Regions from separate parts of the Homo sapiens genome. Here region 1 is linked to region 2. Evidence: fine-mapped expression QTL. Tissue or cell type: spinal cord. Region 2 holds a variant in brackets; the other region holds the start of a gene. All regions are shown on one strand. Distances are between the middles of the regions.

What was found. PIP is the estimated chance that this variant, and not a neighbour inherited with it, causes the effect.
Region 1: FSTL5 starts here. The variant in region 2 is fine-mapped to the expression of FSTL5 in spinal cord (GTEx, PIP 0.98).

The regions. Positions count from the first base shown.
Region 1 is chr4:162,162,654-162,165,426 of GRCh38, reverse strand. FSTL5 (follistatin like 5) reads left to right here and starts at 1,427. Exons shown (of 16, transcript NM_020116.5): 1 at 1,427-1,812. RefSeq lists an enhancer at 1,164-1,273.
Region 2 is chr4:161,928,589-161,931,361 of GRCh38, reverse strand. The region is part of intron 3 of FSTL5 (follistatin like 5); the gene reads left to right. Among named protein-coding and RNA genes, the nearest start is that of FSTL5-AS1, 93 kb to the left of the region's middle. The variant T/G (reference allele first, on the strand shown) is at 1,186.

The sequences.
Region 1 (2,773 bases), 230 kb before region 2:
AATGCATTATTTTTCCTGATGGGGAAATAAGTAAGTGTATTCCTTTGATTAGAGTCCCTGAAAAATGCTTGTGAGTGGATCCAGTGCTAGATGATATCAGACTCCTGGCATATGATGACACATATCAGTGTGTATGCATTCTGATGGAAAGCAATGTGTGAAATGCTATGACATTATTTGAATAAACAACCTTTTTTATTAAACATGCTTTATCCAACTTAAGAAAATTTAAGCTTAGTTTTAGATACCCACTTCTCTGTCCAAGTAAGTCATGATAGCTGTAGGTGGGACATGTGCATGGAATGTGAATAATCACCCTTCTGGATGATTGATTGCTTCAGTTCACTGAAAGTGTTTGTTTACAAGTTTAAGCAGTCTGTGGAATTTGGCATGACAGGCCCCCTTTCTCTTGCCTTCAAGGAGGCTAGAGCTTCACTGGGACAAGAAATATCACAAATACTGAGAGAATTGCTAAAGGCTATGTAAAGCTTCCAGCATAGCCCATCTTTCATAGAAATATTGATATAGTAGACATAATAAATATTGCATAACCTTCATAATTTTGGCAGTGGAAGTTGAAGCTGATAACTTTCACTTTTTATTATTTAATTTTTTTCCCTCTGGAATCTCCAAGTCTATACAGTTTGAGGATTTGTTTAAATCATGAGAATGAATAAGGAAGGTTCTGTAGGTTTTATAGGAACGCATATGAAGTATAATATATACTATGGAGCACTCGTATTTTTTTTCCTTAAGATTCTGTTTAGAAATGATGGTTAGCGCTGCAAGCTTTCACGTTTTCTCTCAGTGCTCAGAATTTTTTTTTTTTTCTTCCAGGCAAGTTTCTGCAGCAGCGACTCCCTCCAGAGGCTCCGTGAACCGAGGGAAGGGAGTAGGAACACCAAATACGGATCCGTTCAAATAACCAAATGGCAGGGAGAGGCAGCAAAGTTTGGGCAGGAAGATGAAAAGGATTGGAGATGTTTTCAAGAATGGTTGAATAGATTCATTCTATTTCTCCGTCTCCTCCCCACCCGCCTCCCACTCGGTCCTCTCCGTGCTCCACTGCCCCCTCTCTCCGCCCCGTCTTCCTTCCAGAGCTGTGCCCGCAGCGATCTTAGAGTGCGCAGAAACGGCAGTCCCCGCGAAGGCAAAGGCTCCAGCACCGTCAAAGCGTTTAGTTTCTACTGGACTGGTTGAGAATACATCCTGAAGTCCAAAGATGCCCACGCTGACGTTAAGCCTGAATTTTGTTGCCCCGATTGCCGCAGCTGACTCTAGCAGAAGCCCAGTCAAGGGGGCGGCCCCTCACCTCTCGGCGAGTTGATATGCAAAATAGTTACGTCAGATGGTGGGGGCGGGGCACCCCCGGGTTGAGTGGCAGCAGCTCCTGCCTAGGGAGGAGGAGCGAGAATCAGCCTGGTTCAGTGACTGAGACAAACTGGAGGTGAAAGGAGCTGGTACTGTCCACTGTGCTGTCGGTGCTGAACCTGAGACGCGAGCGGACCAGTTGCTCCAGCACCTGAAGGCAACGCCCTCTTGCACCCTCTGTGCCCTGTGGGACCCGCTTCACCAACAGGACCCATATCAACTTGACAAAGGAGTGTGGTATCGGACGTGGGAGAGAGTCCTCTGTTTGCCACCTGGGCGCTCATTCAGGCGTGACTTTGGAGATTTCTATAGTTTTAGACCAAACTATTTTTTTTTCCCCAGCTAAGACGATCTTTTGAGAGTTTTTTTTTTTTATTGTGATTTATATTTCCACAGCGTTTAGGAATCTTTCTGGGGGACTTTTGTGACTGTTAAAATAAGGTAAGAAAAATAATATTGTTATAAATGATTACAAGTGGGGGAGAAATACAGACTGCCATACAAAAATTTAAAAACAAGTTATGCTTATTTTTATAATTTGAAACTGGACTTTTGGCAATGATTACAAAAATATTTTAATAATTACTATTATTATTATTATTATTATTATTATTATTACAAGACAATCTGTTAGTGATTATGCACTAAATTCTAGAGGGGAAGTTGAGAGCTTTGCTTTTTGTGAAGTTGATGTCATTATGTTATATCTTGCTTTATAAATATAAATATTTTAGAGCAATACTTTCAGCAGGGTTCAAAGGATAGGAACCATTCCAGGAAACCCCCCAAATATATTAGCAAATGATGTTAAATAAATCAACCAACAAGTTGTTTAGAACAAATATAATCAAATAATTATTTGAATGGACTAGTCTCTGGTTAATCATCAATATTATTCCTATATCTAAAGCATAGACTTCAAAGTGCAGAGCTCTCTTAACATTTTTTGGAAGGGAGGAGGTAGGTATAGAAACATTTACATCATGCTGGGTCCATTTAGATGTGTTGTTATGCAGTAGATCCAAATAAAACTTGTGAAACTCAGTCTCTGAGCATTCCACACCCCAAGGTCATGTGTATTTCCAAGTTGGGGGCTGTTTGTTCTGCTGTTGACTAGCAAATGTCATCCCCTTGCAACCCCCTCAGGTTAGAGGTGGATGTAAATGGGAAGTTCTGATTTAATAATACAGTATTCGCTTGTATTATAGTCGCTTGTGCTGTTGGTAATTGAATGGAACTGGGAAGTGTGGGCTGAGAAAATGTCTCACTATTTCAGCAATGTTTAACCTCTTGCATGCTTAACAGAGAGCTTTTCTTTACTTAGAAGAATTTTCTTTTGAAGCTATGTTCCTTTTATCAATTGGCAGTGTGTTCTGAGTGTGTACAGAGAAAGAATTCAGTG
Region 2 (2,773 bases):
ATAGCTGTTCTTGTTTGACTCACACTATATTCACCTAGACCAAGGTAGTGGCTTCCTGACTCCTGTTGTTTTCTTTTCTATCCTCCACAGACTCCTTAAAGCTATTAAAGATCAGCTTCTACGGTCCCAGTGACACATCCTAAACATATTGTGCAAGGCTATTATCATCTTCTCCCTAATTCTCTAACATCTTGTAACAATCATAATCATAATCTCTCCCCTTTGGCAGCATTAGATCAACCTACTCATATATTCATACCTTTGCTTAAAATATCCTTTTACGCATCTATTGTCCACATCCCTAATTTCTATGTAGTGCCAGACTTTTCTTCTTTAGAATGCTTTCTGGGAGCCCTACTAGACAGAGTTAAGTTCCCTTCTTTTATCATAGTGGTATAATACTTTTGAGGTAGTATTTATTATTTCCCCCTTCGCCTTTGTCTAATTCAGGCAGCAGATTGACTCCGTGTCTTTTGCTCCGGGAAAGGAATATAAGCACTTGGAAATCTGAAAAAGCTTGCAATTATTCCAAACACCTAAGCTAGGGGAAATGAAATAATTCAAGGGATAAACAAAGTTTTTGGAGAAATTAGTTATGAAATGGATTTAAAACACATCTGTTGGAGCAGAGAGGTAGAGAGTTGAAGCAAATGAGTTTACGAGCATAGATAGAGCGCTTTGCATCCTGATTTTTTTTAACTATCCAAGGAACTTGAGTGATCATGTGACTAGCAACCAGAATTGTATCAGTGGTGAACCCTGTGTTCTGAACCTGAAGACACTGTATTTACTTCTTATGTTTTGCTATTTTGAAAACGCTACTAACATTGGTGTAATCCTCAAAAGAGAAAAAAAAAGCTTTAAAAATGACTGATATAATATTTTTAAACTTTCTCATGGAAGCATAGTGCTTTGCATATGGTAATAAGTTGATTCTTAGAAAATAAGGTTCTCTTTATTTCCAGTGCAAAAGTTTGTTGAAGAAATTAATGAACTAATCAGTATTTTAATTCAACCATAGAGGGGTTTGGGGAAGAAAACATTGTTAATCATTGACTCTATTTAGATTTATGCCAAAGCTAAGAATTTAGTTTTGCTGGTTTATACTGGTTTATAAGAGCTGGCTGCCCACATGTCTTCTTAAATTCAGCTGTGATGTCTTGTTTGTAGCTGCAGATCAGACAC[T/G]GTGGGAGTATTTTACAACACAGAAACCAGAGAATGCTACAAACACAGTGCCTTTTGTTAAGCACTAATCACTACATCACTGATTATGACTCAAGGCCAGAAAAACTCAGGAATTTAAAGGATCTTTCCCCAAAACTGATGTTAAGGCAACTATTATAAATATGGCTCTTAAAAAATCTGACATTGTTTCTAATGCATTAGGTGTGAAGAAAATGTGGAGTAAAAATAACCAGCCACACATCAAAAATTATAAATTTGAGGGAAAAATGAGACATCATTTAGTCCAGCACTCTGTAGAAATCCTGAATTTTTCACTTTTTCCTTACTGGATGTCAGAGAGACTGAGGGAAGCCATACCTGGGACTCACTGTCACCCCTGCTTTAATCAGAATGGTGACACTTTTGATTATTTTGTGTATTGGGCTTTTGCACTAGATGTTTTTCTAAGCTATAATTTCCAAGTTTAAACTATGTACACACACACACACACACACACACACACACACACACACACACGTGCCTACCTACATCTGCTAGAGTGGTAGTTAAGATTATGATTGAGTGTATTGTTCCAGTAATTTAGTTCACTGGCAACATTTAAAGTCACTTCCAGTTATGTACATTCCACAAAAAAATTCATAAAAATAAATATCACACAATTGAAAATCCCAGCTTACTTTTTAGATATAGACAAACGGATTCTAAAGTTTATATGGCAAAGCAAAAGATTTAGATGATCTGACAGAATATTGAAGGAGAAGAAGACAGGCATATTGAGCTATCTGACTTCAATATGTACTTTAAAGCTGCAGTAGTCAAGACAGTATGGTGCTGGAGAAAGGAAAGACAAAAAAAGAGTGATGGAACAGAGTAGAGGGCCCAGAAACAGACCCATACCATTAGAGTTAACTGATCTCTGACAAAAAAAAAAAGCAAAGCTAATTAAATGAAGAAAGGATATTCTTGTCAACAAATGGTGCTGAAGCACTGGATATCCATATTTAAAAAAGAGAAAGAAAGGAAAGAAAGAGAGAGAGCAACAGAGGGAGGGAGGGAAGGAGGGAGGAAGGAAGTAAGGAAGGAAGACAAATCTAGTCACAGACCTTATGTAATTCAAAAAAAATTCAGCTTGAATCACAAATTTAAATGCAATATGCACAACTATAAAACTCCTAGATGATCTCTATGGAGGACATCTAAGAGGCTGAGTTTGGTGAAGACATTTTAGTTACAATAACAAAGGATAATAAGTGAAAGGAAAAATTGATGAGTTGGACTTAATTATAATTAAAAATTTCTCTGCAAAAACCACTGTCATGAGATTGAGAAGACATGCTACAGATTGGGAGAAAATATTTGCAAAGACACATCCGATAACAGACTGGTACACAAAATATACAAATTCTTAAACCTTCACAATAAAAATGGGTAAATACTAAAATCAACATCTCACTGAAGATGATTTGCAAATGGTAAACAAACATATGAAAATACGCTCAATCAATCTTATGTTATGATTATGGAATTGCAAATTAAAACTTCAAGATACCACAACTACCTAATTGAATGGTAAAAATCCAAAACATTG